Homo sapiens: one gene and its partner. The protein of the gene in region 1 interacts with the protein of each later gene in a biochemical or structural test. Each region holds a gene or a part of one and is shown in the gene's direction. Other genes may lie near its edges. The genes, in order: EIF5B and ETS1.

What was found.
Region 2: the proteins of EIF5B (region 1) and ETS1 form a complex in vitro, tested with the Homo sapiens proteins (one study listed by BioGRID).

Annotation. Positions count from the first base shown.
Region 1 is NC_000002.12:99,331,108-99,341,513, forward strand, and holds the start of EIF5B (eukaryotic translation initiation factor 5B), read left to right. Parts: upstream 1-6,281; 5' UTR 6,282-6,447; coding exon 6,448-6,482; intron 6,483-10,406. Other genes in the region: TXNDC9 (thioredoxin domain-containing protein 9), read right to left, coding at 1,915-2,103. UniProt on the Homo sapiens protein: Plays a role in translation initiation.
Region 2 is NC_000011.10:128,583,569-128,593,243, reverse strand, and holds the start of ETS1 (protein C-ets-1), read left to right. Parts: upstream 1-5,685; 5' UTR 5,686-5,756; exon of another isoform or gene 5,757-6,567; coding exon of another isoform or gene 6,568-6,604; exon of another isoform or gene 6,605-6,904; intron 6,905-8,315; exon of another isoform or gene 8,316-9,675. UniProt on the Homo sapiens protein: Transcription factor. Directly controls the expression of cytokine and chemokine genes in a wide variety of different cellular contexts. May control the differentiation, survival and proliferation of lymphoid cells.

The DNA of each region.
Region 1 (10,406 bases):
GTCTCTCTACAAAAATATCCTAGTTACAAATAATTATTTTTAGTTGCACATTAGCAATTAGTACTTAAATGTGACTATGAAATATGAGTTTGTGGCAGAACCTAAACATATATTACCTTAAATTCCAATAATCCGTCCTTTGCATACTAATTATCAGCCCTATACTATGAAAAGAAGCCAATTGGGCCTGGTGTGGGGTGGCTCACACCTGTAATCCCAGCACTTTGGGAGGCTGAGGCAGGCGGATCATTTGAGGTCGGAATTTGAGACCAGCCTGACCAACATGATGAAACCCCATCTCTACTAAAGTACAAAAATCAGCTGGGCATGGTGGCAGGCACCTGTAATCCCAGCTACTTGAGAGGTCAAGGCAGGATGGGCAACAGAGTGAGACTCCCTCTCAAAAAAAAAAAAAAAAAGAAAGAAAAGAAAAAGAAAAGCAGCCTATTTTTTAAAATACGGTAGGGTACAGGTAAAAGCCATATAACGTACTCTATTTTAGAAACTCAAAATATAAAAATTTGGACTCACTTATAAAAGATTATTTCCTTTTGTAGTAACTCTTCTAAACATGAGGGTGTAAACATATCAAAGTGATGCTACAGCAATACAAACAAAACTCCTTCTCTTTTTTTGTGGGGGAACTGGGTCTTGCTCTATCATCCAGGCTGGAGTGCAGTAGCACAATCTCGACTCACGGCAACCTCCACCTCCCGGGTTCAAGAGATTCTCCTGCCTCAGCCTCCTGAGTAGCTGGGACTACAGGTGTGCGCCACCACACCTGGCTAATTTTTGTATTTTTTGTAGAGACAGGGTTTCACCATGTTGGCCAGGCTGGTATTGAACTCCCGACCTCAGGTTGTCCGCTCACCTTGGACTCCCAAAGTGTTGGGATTACAGATGTGAACCACCATGCCCGGTCAAAACTCCCTATTTCTTCAGAAAAGTTAAGCCTCATGTTTAAGTCACAGTCAACTGAAAAGGAACCAGAGTTGGTGATAAAGTATTTCCATGTAACCCAGTGGAAAAAATGTTTTAATCAAAATTCAATTTGGCCAGGTGCGGTAGCTCACGCTTGTAATCCCATCACTTTGGCAGGCTAAGGTGGGCGGATCACTTGAGGTCAGAAGTTCAAGGGCAGCCTAGCCAACATGGCGAAACCCCATCTCTACTAAAAATACAAAACTTAGCCAGGCATGGTGGTGTGCGCCTGTAGTCCCAGCTACTCGGGTGGCTGAGGCAGAATAATTGCTTGAAGCCGGGAAGCGGAGGTTGCAGTGAGTTGAGATGACACCACTGTACTCCAGCCAGGGTGTCACAGCGAGACTCCATCTCAAAAAGCAGAAAAAAAAATTTCAATTTACAGAATTTAATCCACTGGTTTCAGTCAGAGTTTACAACTCTGCGTTTATTCTACACAAACATTCTAAGAGGCAACAACGATAGAGCTGTGGCCACCTTTGTTACAAAGCATGCATTCTTTTGAATATGCCACATAATTATTTCATTGGAAATGCCTGAAATACATTTTTCAACATAAATTGACTTAATTGCTCTTATCTCATCTGTCTTATCTCGTTTGCTTTGAAAATAGCTAAATCGGCTTTAATATTACCTGAAATGGAAACCAATGACTCCCTAGCCCTCCATTCAACCAAACAAATCCAAGCTCAGAAAAACGATCTTGGGCAGATCTTTCTTTTACTCGACTGTGGATTAATATAGAGATTGGGCTAATTTTGAATGTCTTTAAAACATATTTTTTTCTGGGCAAATTTTTAACAGTAATAGGTATTCTGAATTTTAAAAACCCTAAACACAAAGAACGAAATGTAACTACTACAGCACATGTATATATAAGTTGTTAGGCGCATACTGTTATAGCAATTTCAGAAAGCAGGGCAGAGAGGTTACTTGTTTCTGCTGTTGAGCTTTCCTTAGTGCCTGGAGTCTCTTTTCTTTAAGGCGTTCCAATTCATCCTCATCCATCTGATCCAGTTTTTGAATTTCAGAATCCAAATGTTCTTCCACCAGTTTGGTAGTCTGAAGCAGCTGATGCTCCAGGACTTTGGAAAACATGTCAACAGATGCATCAGCTTCCATTCTTCCAAATGGTACAGAGTTCAGCCTGGGTGCTGGGGAGAAGATTTACAAAATACATTTTAAAAAATGCAAACAATAAGCAAGGTTTTCTCTACCATTTTCAAAAATTCTGGCAAGTGTATAATGTGTACTCTATGGAGTATTCTAACGACATCCAAGCACTTGATGCTGGGCTTAACAATTTTTATGTGTTTTTAAATTTAATTCTCAGTAGGTTCTAGTCACACCACTCAAAAACTACTTACAGCAAATTTAGGGTGCTTCTGATTTAGCATATGTTTTACTATACTAAAGCCAAGACAAGTCTTTAAGACCATCACCAAACCACAGAGAAATGAGTTGTGAAGTTATACCTAGTGATATATACTGACAATCAGTGTTCTTTACCAATGGGAAAGAGAAATCAGAAACAACTGCGAACAATAGGAAGGTATACCTACTGAGGTTTTACACATAAATATATATATTAAACTTTACTTAAACACAGAGTACAGTTGAGCAAAACACAGATTTTTTTCATGGCTGCTGCCCAAATGAGTTTCATTTAACTCCTAAGACGTCTCATTACCATTTATGTAAAGAAGAGTGCCTGGTGTTCCCTGAGCATTAATGTCCATTCCTGTTCTCCCATTACCTAACAAAAAAGTCTATGAGGTCACAAAAATTAATACTGGTTTCCATTTACTGACAGTGTTAACTTTGATGTAAAACACTCCAAATACTTTTCTAAATTTTGGGTTTTTTTCCAACATCACTCCTCTGTGTAAAATCAGAGTTTCAAAATAGAACTAATTCAGATTAGAAAGGAAGACCTATCTCAATTAGTCATGCATCACTTAACAATGGGAATATATTCTAGGCTGGGTGCTATGGCTCACGCCTGTAATCCCAGCACTTTGGGAGGCCAAGGTGGGCAGATCACTTGAGTTCAGATGTTTGAGACCAGCCTGGGAAACATGATGGAACCCTGTCTCTACTAAAAATAGAAAAATTGGCCAGGCCCGGTGGTGTGTGCCTGTAGTCCCCGCTACTAGGGAGGCTGAAGTGGGAGGAGGATACCTTGAGCCCAGGAGGCAGAGGTTGCAGTGGGCTGAGAACGCACCACTTGCACCCCACCCTGGGCAACAGAGCCAGACCCTGTCTCAAAAACCAAAAACCAAAAACCCACAAAACAATGAGAATACATTCTGAGAAATGCATCATTAGGTGATTTTGATATTGTTTCAAACATTATAGACTATTTACACAAACCCAGATGGTACAGCCTGCTACACACCTAGGCTATGCCATACAGCCTATTACTCCTAGGCTACAAATCTGTACAGCATGTTACTGTACTGAATACTGCAGACAACTGTAACATAATGGCATTTGTGTATCTAAACATAGAAAAGGTACGATAAATACAGTATTACAATCTCATAAAACTGAAATGTCCTTATGTGGCACATGACTATATATTTTAAAAGAAATGGAGTATTTTGTACTAGCAATTAGTACAAAATTTTACTTTTTTTTTTGAGACGGAGTCTCGCTCTGTCGCCCAGGCTGGAGTGCAGTGGCGCATCTCCGCTCACTGCTAGCTCCGCCTCCTGGGTTCACGCCATTCTCCTGCCTCAGCCTCCCGAGTAGCCGGGACTACAGGCGCCCGCCACCACGCCCGGCTAATTTCTTTTTGTATTTTTAGTACAGACGGGGTTTCACCGTGTTAGCCAGGATGGCTACGATCTCCTGACCTCGTGATCCGCCCGCCTCGGCCTCCCAAAGTGCTGAGATTACAGGCGTGAGCCAGCCGCGCCCGGCCAAAATTTTACTTCTTTTAAAAGAAATGGAGTATTTTGTACGAGAAATTTTATACCAACAATTAGAGGGCAAGTTTATGTGTATCTCAGGGTTATTACTGCAGAAATGATTTATAATTTGCCTATCAAAGCAGGAGGCTGTTGCATATCAATGAACTATGATACATTTGCAAATAATACTGAAGCACCCCAAACTTCACAACAAACTGTGAATTCATTCACTCAGCTTCTGACACAGATTCTGACCCACACAGGCCCTCTATAAACGTTGAGCTGAAGAGAAATATTCTTGCAAACTTCAATTCTGATTCCTTTTTCTTTACAGGAAAAGGATTTGAAAAGCATACTTGATTTCATCTTTGTATCTCCATAGAACACAGCAGGTACTCAATAAACATGTATTTAACGTTGAATGAACACGTGCCTGACTTCTGTTCAAATTACTACACTGTTAAGTTTCAAAAGTATTTGAGTCTAAAAAACCAAATTGTAAGCTCCTCGTGAGTGCTATAAAATTGGAAAGGTGCTGTATTTCAAACACAGCAAAGATTTCCACGCTCCCTATCGCCCAAGAAAAATGTCAGTAGGACTGTGACCCTCAGTGAGGGGGCTGGAAGGAGAAGATAATAAGATACTGAATTGAACGTTGGAAGCTGTGCTCCAGGGATAAGCACAGAGAATGCCTACCCTGGAACTTTATAGAATGAGCCCAGAATTTAATTATGGGATAACTGGAAAAAGACGAGATTAAGAAGAGCTATTCTGGGTGTAGGTGTTGGTGGTCAGAGCATTGAGAATGGGGTAAAGAGACGATGCAACCCCTCGTTAGCTTTTCATTTTTCAAACCACAGCCTCTGATTCTTCCTTTTTACAGCTCCGCTGGAAGGGTGGGACGGGACACAGCGCGTCCTCAAATTCCCTAGTCATTTCCTGGACACCCTTACAGGTATCCGCCAAAACAATCAAGGGGCCTGGTCCTTAACTGAACCCCAGGTACCTCCCCAATGGCAAGCCGGCCACTCCCTGCGCCCGGGGAAACAGAGGAAAGCACAGTCCCGGTGGCCCCAACTTCGACGCCTCCTGGTGCGCTTGCGCAAGAGCCTCTGCCAGGACACCGACACCGGTGCTGGGGCCGCGCCCCTCCTCCGCTCCGGATGTGGAGCAGCAGAATGTTCACCAGCACCCGGACGTGGTGGTCGGATTCTTCTCACTACCCTCTGCCTCACCTGAGCTCTCGGTGACGCCTGAGAAGTGAAAGAGCAGCAGTTTCAAAAGACACGTCCACTCCGGCTTTTGCCTTGCAGTAGCTGCCGGCGGCTGCAAACGGGCCGTCACATCCGCCTCCTTATTGGCTGCGAACCTCGCGCGATATCACCTTGGACGCCAGAGGAAGGGGCGGGCGGTCGGGTGGCGAACAGTTCTGCGCGTGCGCCTCCCGCCCAGCAGCCCGGAACCCAAGGTGTCCGACCCTTGCTTTCCTCCGGGTACACGGCCGAACTGGAAGGCCGCAAAGCATTGTGGGAGTTGCAGTTTCTTAGTGCGCAGGCTGTCGTGGCCGGACTTTCTCAGGAGCGTGCTTCAGTATTCACGGTCCAGTGCGCCAGACTGGAAATGAGACAGCTGTGCTCTCGCTCAGCCGTGACGCTTGAACTGCGTTTCCATTCTGTTAGTGTTGAATGAACATTTTTCTTTTTTTTGTTTTCTTTTGTTAACATTTTTCCTAAAGTCGAGGCATAAACATATACAGCACAATTAACTTTTGCATAGTTAAAACCCAAAATATCACCGGCCAGATCCAGATATAGAACATTTTCCACCACCCCTGTAGGTCCCCTCTTGACTCTTCGAAACACAGGAATTTTTAGAACTCGCCCTCGCTTTGAGGGTGAAGCTGAAGACCTATGTTAGGGAATTGATCGGCTGTGTCCTGTTCTGTTTTATTCAGTGACTGTACATAATGCATAATGCATGGATGTTACTGAGAGGTCCCTATTTTGTCCTGAATTTATCTCTCTCGCAAACCCCCAGAGGACTCTATTGGTTCGTTGTGGTTCTTTACTGAACTTCGTGCGGCTGAGAATACAAAGATATAAAGGGAAGCCCAAAGCCCACTCCTGAACCGAAGCGTGCGTTCCCCGTTGGGAGAGGGGTGAGGTGGCGAAATTGACAGCTTCATTGTCCACCTCCGGGTTCTAGAACGTGGAAAACCCGCGGGTGTCGGCTCGTGGCGGACGCTTGAGGGCAGGGGGCGCTCGGGCTGCTGCCTGGTCGGCCGGTCAACCGGAGACGCTCTACCCGAAGCGCAGCTCTCGATGAGCCGCGCCCTGCGTCCTCACGCCGAGGCGGCTGGGCGATGCGCTTGCGCACTGAGAACTCACACCATATGTGTCCTGTTCCAGTGCGCGGGTCTGTGGAGAGCCGGGTGCGAGCGGCGGCAGCACGAGGGGAAAAGAGCTGAGCGGAGACCAAAGTCAGCCGGGAGACAGTGGGTCTGTGAGAGACCGAATAGAGGGGCTGGGGCCACGAGCGCCATTGACAAGCAATGGGGAAGAAACAGAAAAACAAGAGCGAAGACAGGTAGATAGGGGTTGGGTCCGTACGGCGGCGGCCGCCGTGGCTCAGTGGAGTGTGCGGGTCTCGCCGGGCGCGGCGTCGGACCGGGGTCTGGGCTCGCGATGAGCTTCGCGGGGTACCAGGCCTGGGCCCAGAGTGTGCGGAGCGGGCCCAAGCCCCCGGGCCGGGTGGGCACGTAGGGCCTCGACGGCGGGCGGGTCCTCCCAGTCGAGCCTCGCTCCCCCGGCACCCCTTCCCCGGCCTGAGGAGCGGGGTAGTCATTTGAGGGTTCCTGGTCGCGCGGGGAGGGTCAGGCGGCTTCGCCAGCGTGGCCCAGGCCAGTGTGAGTTTTTTTCCGCGCTACTCTTGGCGAGGGTGGGGAAGTTCTTTTTATGCCTCTTATACCTGTGAGTACTTTGGGAGGGAAGGGAGCTTGAATGTGATGTACGGCCGGGTTTCTCTACTCGCGGTTTCAGGTACGTTAGAGTTATGGGGAGGTGTTTAGCAGTTCGCTGTCTCTCAACTTAATCTGATTTGGATACAGTTTTCGTTTATTTAAGGGCTGATTGTCCAGCCCTCATGCTTTTCGCTTTCCTTCTTCCGGCCTGTTTTTTTTTGTCGTTTCTTTGCTCTCTAGCCTTCCCCTAAGAAAGGAAGGGAAGAAGAAGAAACCAACCAACCGAGGTCGCTCCTTTCTAACCACCTGCAATGCTTTGGGGAGGGAGGATAAGGGTATATGCGAGTTACTTACCTAGAGATTTTTGAGACATTTCTGTGTGTCACATTCGATTGAGTTCTGTTACTCATGATGGAAAGAGTTGACTTCCTGGGAGTGAACAACATCTGTTACATTACACGTTCGTACACTACCCACCAAACTTAAATACGAGGCGGAGAGTAAGGTAAATTAAAAAAACTAGTGCTAGTTCATCAGTCTGACTCAAAACAGATATGTTGTCTTGAAGTTAAAATAAGTTTACTAATTATAAATTGGAAGCCTGGATCGTTTTCTCACCTAGCGTTTGACTAGCTTATGAGTAGAATTAAAAGACAACAAAGATAGTCTTGTATTTCAGTTTTAGGTCTATTGGAGGAAGTTAATTGGTTTGGAGAATTGAATTATTGTTAAACCAGATGAATGAGAAAATAAGGATTATGGGTGATGTAGGGGAACACAAATTTCTGTACTTTTGACAGGAATTTTTGATGTATAGGGTACTTTTTTCCTTGCTAATGTTCAGCTGTCTCTAGAAAATAGAGAACTGAGTATAATGAGCCTTTATGTATTAATTACCTGCCTTCAACCATTGTTAGCACATGACCTGCTTGGTTTCATCCCACCTACTAGAAGTGTGTGTATATATATATATATACAAATATATATACACACATATATATAAATATATATATATACAAATATATACACAAATATATATATACATTTTTTTTTTTTTTTTGAGACGGAGTTTCCCTCTTGTTGCCCAGACAACAAGAAACTTAGGGCAATGGCGCGATCTCGGCTCACTGCAACCTCCACCTCCCTGGTTCAAGCGATTCTCCTGCCTCAGCCTCCGAGTAGCTAGGATTACAGGCATGCACCACCACATCCGGCTAGTTGTGTATTTTTAGTAGAGACGGGGTTACTCCATGTTGGTCAGGCTGGTCTCGAACTCCCGACCTCAGGTGATCCGCCCGCCTCGGCCTCCCAAAGTGCTGGGATTACAGGCGTGATCCATCGCCCCTGGCCCCCACCTACTAGATATTTTAAAGCAAATCTCATTAGCTTTTCATCTGTAAATCCACCAAGTATATCTGTAAGAAATATTAATAGTGATTCTTAAACATTAGCAAATATTCAGTCAGTTTGCTGATTTCCCTGATTGTCTTATTACAGTTTTTTTTTCAATTCGTTCGTTTGGTTTAGGATTACACAAATGTGTTCTTTAGATTAAAATTACATATATATGTGTTTTTGTTTTGTTTTGTTTTTTGGAGATGGAGGGGCAGTCTCACTATGTTGCCCAGTCAGGTCTTGAACTCCTGGCCAGTGATCCTCCCACCTCAGCCTCCCTAGTAGCTAGGACTACAGGCGCGATCCGGCTTATATGTTTCCCTACTTACACTTTTTACTTTCCAGGCTCTTTCACAATAGAAAAAAGCCATTGGGAGACAAGATGTTTATTCTTGTCTGTGTCTTTTTAGGGAAAAGTGAGTGTCTCATTGATTTATAAAGATTTTCAGGGATGCTGTAAAGTTTAAATTGCACACTAGACCCTGTTGTTAAATGATTGGTTTGGTTGTGTAGAAGAAATGCTGTTTTTTCCCCCTCTCAACCTAATCTGTGTTTTGTTGTTGTTGTTGTTGTTGTTTTGGTTTGTTTGTTTTTGGCTCATGTTGAAGGGAAAGTGGTGGCAATATAATTTTAAAACATTTATTTTCTCATATACCAATATATGAAATTGATACATTTTGTGAGTGTGTGTGTGTATAAATGCCTCATGGACTCCTTTTTATGAATGGCTTTCAGATTGTGTTTAAGAAATCCTGAGCTTTAGCAGAGTTCCCTTTGACTGGAACTGCTTGGGTTTTTATTTTGGTCTTCCACATGAGATATTGGGAGATGGGGAATGGGAAGTTCCACTGCTTTGTGAGTCAGCTTTTTACCTTTATTTTAATATTTCTTTCCTTTCTTCAGGGATATTTTGAATATTTGTAAATGGGACAAAAACACAGACTGGAAAGAAAATCTAGAGGGAGAAAGTCCAATTTTAGGATTAGTATTCTTGTTTGTGTAAAATGAGATAGAGATCCGGTTTTATTCTCCTGGGTGAAGGTCCACACTTTAAAGATTTTACTGTCATTCCACCTCCCCTCCTTGGCTATGTCAGGCATGTTTCTGGCAAGGTGTGAACTGTGTGAGAAATGACAACTGCTTATTTAGTTATCAAGAGAAGGCATGGAGCCACTTTTCAGTTCTTGGACAGAACATACAATACTCACTGTCCTTAATTCTTATATTTAATTAATCCTTATTTTAACTTCTTAGCCACTCAGTATTCATTTAAAATTAGATTTTAACTTACCTAATTTTATTTGTACAGCATGTGTCAGTGATCAAGATATTTATTCTTGTCTGTGTATTTTTAGAATTCTAGAATTTTGCTTAAAGACCAAGTTCTAGAATTCTGTTCCAGTTTGTGAAAAATCTTCTTTTTTTTTTTTGAGATGGAGTCTTGCTCTGTCACCCCGGGTGGAGTACAGTGGCGCGATCTCCACTCACTGCAACCTCCGCCTCCTGGGCTCAAGCGATTCTCCTGCCTCAGCCTCTCAAGTAGCTGGGATGACAGGCGCCCAACACCTGGCTAATTTTTGTGTTTTTAGTAGGGACAGGGTTTCACCATGTTGGCTGCCTGGTTTCAAACTCCTGAACTCAAGTGATCCTCCCACCCTGGCCTCCCAAAGGCCTGGAATTACAGGTGTGATTCACCACGCTCAGCCCCAGTTTGTGTAATTCTAAGAATGAGATTTTGATGTGGTGTTTGTTCAGCAAGTTTTCCTGACCTTTTTCAGTTGACTCGGGAAACTTGTTGAGACAAAGGCTAGGATTCAATATCCACATATCAAACAAATATAATACACATAGCCTAGGTTTAATAAAGGAATTCATTTCTTACTTGCATATATTTGAATGAAACTCTTGTCTGCATAAATTACATCAAAAAAAGATGCATAATCAGAATTCTTTTGGTCTAGCCTGTTCCTATCCTGACGCTTTAGGAAGTGGTAGGGGAAGAAGTCCTAGTTTGCTATAAATTAATAAGAAAACAGATTATAGATTTTTGTTGATAGTAACCTCTCTAGCCTTCCATGCTGTCCCTGTGGGGAACTCATTCAGCTACTTTTAATGTTACTTGCTCATTTGTTGTGCTTTATTTATGCTTCTAAGTT
Region 2 (9,675 bases), on another chromosome or scaffold:
TCTTTAATCCTCACAGTAATCCCTGAGGTGTACAGTGCCATTATCTTCATTTTATATATGAGGAAACCAAAAATCGGAAATCTTAAAATGTCCATGGTAACTGAGAAAGAACAAAGGCTGGGATTTAAATTGGGAAGTTTGATCTCAGAGGCTGTGCTATCACACTATGATAGCCTGTCGTCTTCATTGGACCGATAAAGTCATGTACTTAACTGTAAAATTTGGTTTTTTATTCTTGTTACAGGTGCAATACAACATTGTATAAAAATCAGAAAACACAAACATAACAAAAATACAACAAAAAATCTTCCATACCACCAGAAATAACCTCTCAATACTTAGTCGATTTATGGTTTTAGATTGTAAAAATGGCATTATGCTGTACACAATGTATTTTGAGCTGTCAAGCTCTAACTTTTTATATTTATCCAGTCCATAGTATGTTCAAGGGAGTGTGCTGGGGAGGCAGTTTATATGACTACTGGTGATAAGGAAATGTCAAGGGCACAGACCCTGCACCCCCAGAATCACATTCTAGTGGGGAAGATAAGGCAGGAAAGACGTGGACAGGAGATACGGGAACTTAAATAGCTCATTGTGACAACGCAGGAGCAAGACAATAGCTGCGTGGAAAAGCACAGGGAGAGAAAGAAAGGACTGGAGCTGGAGCTTAAGGGATGTCACAGGGGATTACGGGGGCTGGCTGAGATGATTGAGGCAGCTCCGAAGGGGCCAATCTGGAAAGACATAGCTGCTGAACATACTGCCGGATGCATGGTAGAAGGTCCCAGAACAATACATCGAACACAATCCCATTAAAAAGGCCCAGTATGGGTATAAGAATAGAGGAAAGACTGGAGGGCTGGATATCAAACCCTAAATAGTAGTTAGCTTTTTGGTGTGAGACTGGGTGGAAGGGGACCCGAAGTGGTGATTCTCATTTTTGAATTCATACCCTTCTGTATGACTTGAATATGCTACAACCGCATATTCATCCTGTAATTAAATTGAGATTGAAAAATAACTTTGTAGGAGTTAGACTGACAGAGAGAAAAAGTGAGAAGTATTTTGAGGGAGAAGGGACCAGGGAGACAGAGTGACAAAAAGTACATAGAAAGGAATGGGGGTGGAAGGAGGGGGTGGCAAGATATGGGGTTTTCAGTGGGCTATCATACATCCCAGAAGGGTCCGTTCTGCTGAAACTCTCTGAGTTTGTGGAGTCCACAGGATGTTTAGCAGGCCCAGTGGAACCAGGATGGAGAAGAATTTTTGACCGACATTAGCTAAGCTACTTTGCAGGGAGTCTACCTGGGGGCCTGTGCCCAGCTCATTCTACATTCTAGAGAGGAAGAAAAAACCAGAAAGTTGGTGCAAGGACTAATGGAGCAGCACATCAGGGGTTGTGGGAAGACTACGCCAAGAAATCCGGGTCTCCATAGGCTCTCTGGCACACACAGAAGGATGAGCACCTGTGTGCCAGATGTGTGCACACGTATGTGTGCCATTGCAGTCTCAGCTGTGGCTCAAGACAAAGGCTTTGCTTTTGATCATGGGAAGGAGAGAGAGTCATTGCAAAGTACAGGCTAAGAAGTTCCAGAGCTGGAGTGGCAATGCACAATGGTTCTCTGCTCTTTGCTTTATTTTCAGCATATTTTCTTTTTCTTTTCAATATTTGGTGATAACCACGCTTGTAATAGTATCTGGGTTTCACTCTACTTGGTTTTGGTAGTTTGTTTAGATACTGGTTCTCTGCACATATGAAGTCTTCTGAATTATCACGAGGCTTTTTTCTGAGATGGAAGGAAAGTTAATATGGAAAATGCAATACGTGTGTAATGTTTTGCTTTGCTTTTCCTTAAATTTAATGCCATTTTTAATTTCAAACTTCACACTTTTCCTGCAGCGGGTGGTTTTACAGAATCATTATAAGTTGCTTTGAAGGGGACTTCTGCACTTTAGGGAGTTGGGGTGGCAGTGAGGGAAGGTTGCTGGTGGGAGCGTTGAAGACCTTTGCAGAGCTAAGATTCTGGGAATTTACTTCCATTTTTCCTCTTAAGACATACTAACTTACAAGGTAACTTGTTATACTGAGAAAAGGAAAAAGGTTTCCTTACAGTAAGAAAAGCTATTCTAGAAATTCCTTCATGCTCTGTCTCACTTGTATCCAAACTATATTGAGACTACGATTGTTTAGGTGAGGCTACAGAGATACTCCTTCAAAGAAGCAAACAACTCATTTTGCATATCCCTTTTACATGGGATCAAAAGGTACCCATGTCCCTGGATCACTGAGTTTTAATTTTTTCCTTGAGAATCATAATGGTCATATTGCCCTATCAATTGAGGTCTTTCCTCATAGAGCTATCTATGGACATGGGAAAGAAAAGCATTGCTTCTACTGTTTACACAGTCATCTAATCGCATGGTGATTTCAGCAACCCTGTGAAGTTGGGCTGGTATTACTACACCCTCTTCAAGAGCCGGCATAAGGGAGGGGCTGGGGAGCCACCACCGTGCAGTGGAGGGATCCTCCAGGGATTTCATACCTTCTTCTTCTAGAGCATCATTTTCTTTTGTCCTATATTATCCATGTGGATCAGAAAGCATTCCTTCTGCGGAAGCCTACTGACTTCTAATGCTATATATATATTTTTTTTTTCCCTCGGGACAACATATTCTTTTATTGTGGTAGAATACATGTAACGTAAAATTTACCATCTGAACAATTTTTAAGTGTACAATTCAGGGGCATTAAGTACAGTCACATGTTGTGCAACCATCACCCACATCCATCTCCATTCCTTTTTTATCATCCCCAACCGAAGCTCTGTCCCCATTAAACACGAATTCCCCATTCTCCTTTCTCCAACCTGTGTTAACTTCTATCCCTTTTTCTGTCTCTATAAATTTTACTATTCTAGGTACTTCATACAGGTAGAATTACACAATATTTGTCTTTTCTGTATTTGGTTTATTTCATTTAGCATAATGTCCTCAAGGTTCATCATACTGTAGCATGTATTGGAATTTCATTCTTTTTCAAGGCTGAATAATGTTCCATTTTCTGTACATACCACATTTTGCTTATCCATTTATCTGTGGATAAATAGTTGGGGTGTTTCTACCTTTTGGCTATTGTGAATAACGCTGTTATGAACAATATTGTGCAGACATCTTTTTGAGTTCTTCTTTCAATGCTTGTGGCTATATATGTAGAGGTTGAATTGCTAGATCAAATGGTAATTTTATATTTAATTGTTTTGAGGAACTACCACACTGTTTTCTACAGTGGCTGCACCATTTGACATTCTCAGCAGCAACACACCCTTATTCCTATTTCTCCTTATTCTTGCCATTATTTTCTGTTTCTTTGATAATAGGAACCCCAATAGATGTGAAGAGGTACCTCACTGTGGTTCGAATGTGCATTTCTCTGATGATTAATGATGTTGCCCTTCTTTTCGTGTGTTTATTGGCCATTTCTGCATCTTTGGAGAAATGTCTACTCATGTCTTTTGTCCACTTTTAGATCAGGTTATTTGTTGTTGTTGCTGTTGAGTTGTAGGAGTTCTTTATATATTTTGAGTATTAAGTCCTTATTAGATATGTGATTTGCAATTTTTTTTCTCATTCTGTGGACTTCCCTTTCACTGTCTTAATAGTGCCCCTTGATGTACAACATTTTAAAACTTTGATAAAGTCCAACTTATCTATTTTTTCTTTTGTTGCCCAAGTTTTTTTTCCTGGGATAAGCTGTCATATCCCAGGAAATCATTGCTAAATCCAATGTCATGAAGTTTTCTTCTTTGATTTTTTCTAAGAATTTTATAATTTTCATTCTTATGTTCAGATCTTTGATAGATTTTTGTTAATTTTTGAGTATGGTGTAAGGTAGGAGTCCAATGTCATGCTCTTATATGTGGATACCCATCTAATGTTATATTTTTGAAAATACTGTTTAAAACAAAACTTACTGTTTTCCTGGGCATTCTCTAGGCAATTTATGACAGTGGTGGCTTATTTTGCACTATTAAGATTTCTAGTTTATGTTCTTCCACACCGTAAAAGGCCGTGTCAGAGGAGGGAGCTAAGGTCCTGAAGAGTTGCTTTCTATATAAACTCAGCATAGACAACTCCAGACTTCAGAACCCCTTGACAGCCACACTGTACACCCTTATAGAGCAAGAATCCAAGTCTTCTCAACTTTGTTTTTTTCAATTATCCTGCAAACATAGTGAATACAGTTGTAATTAGTTATGATTGGTATAATTGACCGTGGGCTCTTTAAATGGGGCAGTGTGCTGAAATTGACTGGGTTACAGGGGCAGGCTGAAGCTTCCCTAGCTCTCTTCATAGACTTCTTTTGTAGCATGTATTACATTTTTGGGGGGAGATCGTTGATTTATGTGTCTGTCTCCTCACTACAATGCAAACTTGCTATCTTTCTAGTGCCTAGAACAGTGCCTGGCACAGGCAATTTATTAAACTAAAGTGAACCAATAGCATTACCTCTTCCTTACTTCCAAGTTAATGTGCAAAGGCAGAAGATGAGCAGTAAAATCTTGCTTTACTTACAATGTCATCTTAACTGCATTGCCAGCTTTATACAATGAAGGCTGATGATGATATGGCTCCAAATGACAGTTATTAGATTTTCAAGGATTTTCTAAGTTTGTATCTTTATTAAAAAGAGAAAGAAGCCAACTATGACAAATCTTAACTCCCACCTCCTACTCAAAGAAGATGGAATCTTTTAGGATAAAAGTCTTAGATTAAGCAGCCAAATACTGACTTCTCAAAAAAAATTGTAATAACTCCATTCATAGAAATGAGATTATGCTGTAACATTCTTACCATAGTCCTGAATATGTGAATAAAAGATGCTGTGTATTTTCACTTAGGACAGATGTAAGATTTTCATATTGTTTACATTTTCCCTAAATGAGAAATGTATGAACACTTCTGCCCTTTTATTCCTGCACCACGGACCATGAGTCAGGGCTGCTAAAAGTATCCTTATTTTAGAGATTGCCTAAAACCAGACTTATATGAAAAGGGGATTTTTAGCTTTACTTTTCAGAAATCCCAAGTCCATATCCAGTCAGCTCTCTTCCACAAAATTATTTTCTTTTCTTTAGAAAATATCACATTTCATATCAAGTTATTAGAGAGAAACGGGAAGCCTGAGCAGGTGACTGGGTGGTGGACGTCCTGTGTTTCTAAAGCAATCCCTTTCCCTCACCTGAGACCTTGCCTAGGTTAATGGGGGCTCCATTGAGAAAGTCAAGGAACATGAAGCATGAATATTTACATATTCAGCAGAGAGTAAATGCATCAGCAAATGATGAGGTGAGATACAGTGTTATCCCACTGAACTAGTTCCCTTTTGCTCATCTCCCTCCCTGTTACTCTCCAAGGCTGAGTTATATTCAGCTGAAGCACAATTTGAAGAATACGAAATAATGTGTGATTTGGTGCCACCACTGTCAATCAACAGTGCTTTCCACCTAGACTGCTGTGCCTGTGCCAGTGGCTGCTGTCCTGGTGCCAGGGGCAAGAGGAAGACTGCCTTTTTTCCAGCTTTCCCTGGCTTGACCACACCCCCCAATTTAAGGAGGCAGCTCTATTAGAAACATTATGGTCTTTGCATCCTCTTAAGCTACGGAGCAGAGGATTCCCGCAGGTAGTTGGAAAGAGACCACAGACTTTGAGGGAAGCTCACTCAGGATCTGCTCTCCGGCAAAGTAGTAAGTGAGGTGTGTGTCAGTTTCTGCCTAAAACTTTTCAGTCCATTTTCCTTTTCCTGCTTTAAAAAAATTTCTGTGGAATTAAAGAGTAAGTCGGTAGGGAGATTCAGGATACAAGTGAGTTTTCTCTTTCTCTTTTCACGTCTTTCTATATTCCCATTTAATTGTTTAACAATTTTCAAAAATACTTCCTAACCTCGTCAGAATAGTCTGAAAGCAAGACTATGTTTTTAAAAATGTTCCCTGCTTCACAAAAGTAAAACCATGCACGTTTTAGATACCCGTAGATTACTTGTCAGAAACCCTGATTTTTTTTTTTTTTTTTTGCAAATTGGAGCACTTCCAAAGAAATAAAGCTGTAGTTAAATATATAAATTTCTTTTTATTCTCTTTCACTCCTAGTAAATCTATTGTTTTACTTTTTTCTCCTGCTAGTAGTTTAATGAATTGCTTTTAATAGAGAGGAAATTGCTACAGGTTTGAATCTTGCTAGCCAAACTAGCCTGTTTGGTGTTTTTCTCTGTCTTGGGACTGACCTGCAGTTGTCCAAAGATCTACAAGTTCCTAAGTCTGTTGTTGAGACATGGTGTGGGTGTGGGCCGCGGTTGTCTCAGAGTTAGGGAGGTATTTCTTGTCCCCACGGTAGAGCTGGACTCAGTGGCAGGAGATGTCGATGGCAATTCCTCTGCATCCGGTGATTTTATCTGGCCGTGACACTTTGTATGTGACTCCTCACCCACCGTTAAAGGTCTCTGTTACCAACTTTTAAAGTAGTATTTTCTTCAGGCAAACTTAAAAGGGTGCTGGGTCACTGAAATCAATGCATTCTATTGCAGGATTTCTTTATCACCTTTTGGGTAAGTTTTTGTTTTTAATCTCAAGTCCATTTTCCTTCTTACTTTAGACCACTGCCATGCAACTGAGAAAAAAGTATTTGTTAAACAGCAGGAAATACCAATTCTAAAATGATAACTCCATCAGCTCCATTTGATTTGTAAAATTACTGATACTATAACTCTTTCATCAGTTGTGGTTTTGGGTTTGGTGGCCTATTTTTATCCAAAGAGAAAACGCTTTTTCTTCAGGGGCCGTGGGCTGTGCACAAGGGCTGCAGGGTGGCCACTGCTGCTGTTGAGAGTCTTGCTCACCTGTTGTTCCTGAATGGAGGGAAGGGAGAGCTAATGGGTTAATGTCTGCAAAGTGCTTTGAAGATGAAAAGGTCTTTTCATGTGTTCAGTAGTGCAGTTATTAATATTAATATTTGAAGAAGCATGCTGCTTCTAATTGTAAATCAACTACTTCCATCCTTGCCAACTCAATAGTGAAATAACAAACAGTTCAGGCATCCATGCAGCCTCTTCCGTCCTGGTTCCGCTGCTGAGGATGTGGGAAGCCAAGCCGAGAGCCTAATTATGGAGGGGGCATCTTTGCCCGGCAGGCTCCTTACACGGAGGTGCTAGTTGCTGGCTGTGAAAGGATGTCCTGAGGCAGAGCCTGGGGGAAGCTGGTAGAGGGGTGGGATCCTTTGGCATCTGGCAGTCTGTGGCCAGAGCACCGACTTGGGCCAGTGGCCGGTCCCGGACGATAATGGAGTTCAAAGGCAAGTGGGGTCAGAACTTGAACCAGCGCTGGGTCGGAGAAGGGAAAGTGGCTGTGCACTTGGATTATGTCAGTGATTAGCTTTGTAACAGAGAACAGGGATTGAACGTGTCTGTGCCTTCTTCCCTTCATCTCTAAAAGGTGAGCAATCATTTGCGCCCCGCCTGGTTTACAAATATGAGAGAATAGAAGTAAACAGCATAGGGCTATGAAAAATCAGAGTGCCAGTGAGGTCAAGGACTGTCTGAAGTAATACTTCAACAAACTGGGTGTGTGGGTGCAGGTCCTCTCACCTAGGGGAGGGTGAGGCAGAAGGCAAAACACTGCAAACAAATAATCAACAGATTTCTCTCTTTGATTGCACTGGTGAATTTCTTACTGATAACTGAGGTTCTGATGTACCTTGTGATTTTAATTATTGGTGAATAGATCTGTTTTCCATAGTGACTATCATTTTCTAATTACCAGTTCAAAATTCCCAACTGTTCACATCAAACAGCAGAAGGGAATGATTACGTCCCACGAGCTGGGACCCTTCCTTCCTTCCTTGCTTCCTTCCTTCCTTGCTTCCTTCCTTCCTTCTTCCCTCCCTTCCCTCCCTTTCTATCTTTCTTTTCTTTTCCTTCTTTCTTTCCTCCCTCCCTCCTTTCTTTTTCTTTCTTTCTTTCTTTCTTTCTTTCTTTCTTTCTTTCTTTCTTTCTTTCCTTCCTTCTTTCTTTCTTTCTTTCTCTTTCTTTCTTTCTTTCTTTCTTTCTTTCTTTTCTTTCTTTCTTCTTTCTTTCCTTCCTTCCTTCCTTTCTTTCTTTCCTTTCTTTCTTTCTCTTTCTTTCTTTCTTTCTTTCTTTCTTTCTTTCTTTCTTTCTTTTCTTTCTTTCTTCTTTCTTTCCTTTCTTTCCTTCCTTCCTTCCTTTCTTTCTTTCTTTCTTTCTTTCTTTCTTTCTTTCTTTCTTTCTTTCTTTTCTCTTTTTTCTTCCTCTTTCTTTCTTTTCTCTCCCCTCCTTTCTTCTTCTTCTCTCTCTCCCTCTTCCCTCCTCCTTCCCTTTCCTCCCTTTCTTTCTTCATTATGGAAATGATAAAGTATTTAGCATTTGAGCAAAATTAATGTGGTATGCAGCAATTTAGTGGCATTTCAGGCAAATCTTTTAAGTTTCTTCAATCCTGGGAAAAATTAGATGTGAAGACATAACTTACTTTTTGCTTCCTCATCTCCTTTATCCCTGCTGTACTGAAAGTATAGCTTATTGAACTCCACCTTTTAATGTAGATGATTTTCTAGTTATCATATCCATTCTTCTTCATTTCACCTAAGGAGGAATACTCAGCCCTAACGTTTACTGAGCACTTGGTATGTTCCAACATCCTTGCTAGGTGCTTTGCAGGGACTGCTTCATTTAATCTACAATGAAGTTTTGAGGTGGGCACTCCACTCTCGTCATCCCCATTTACCAGGTGGGGACTCTGAGGCTCAGTCATATGACCGTGTTAACTCATGGTGGACCCTGATTAGAGCCAATGGAATGTGAACCCAGAGCTTGTGATTGGAACTGCATGTCATAGGAATCTAAGTAACTCTAAGACATTTACACAAATTTAGGATAGATTTTTCTGCTTAGACTGATTTGCTTATCTAGGAGAACACTGGATTAAGCCTGTTTTCTGAAGTGGTATCTGTGGATTACTTATTCATTGTTATGAAGATACTGACTTTGAAGAAAGACTACCCAGGCCTAGTTTCCTGGGTAAGTAAGTCAGTCCCTTCCCTGACAAATATCAGTTTTATTTCTACTCCATGCCCAGCCTTGTGCTGGAGACCATACCAAACACAGAAGAAACAATATGTAAACTCCATTTTTAAAATTAACACAATAATCTTTACTAGAAAAGAGGATAAAAATGAAAGACAATATAATTATTAAGTAGTGTAGTATAACCTATACATGCTTTGGGAGTTCAGGTAGAAAAAAATGGTATCTAGAGCAGTGAGGGAAGGATGTTTCTGATCTGCCTTTTTTTCAAAAGAGGATAGATTTCATATTCCAGTAATCAAGTGTTGGAGCTGCCTTCAGAACTTAGAGGGAACAGGCTGGGTAGTACTTACTAGCATGAGAGTAAGCAACAAACATTTAGTGCAAATGTCAGGAAAATATTCTCAATGGGGAGGAAAAAATATATAAATTTTCAAGAGATGTGGAAAGGTAGAAAACTCCAGAATTTTGGTCTTTTTAGAGATTTAAAAGAGATTTAGTCTTTTTAGAGACTTAAAAAAAACTTTTCACTTTGAAATAATTCCAGATGCATAAAAGTTTGCAAAACAATGTACAAAAAGTTT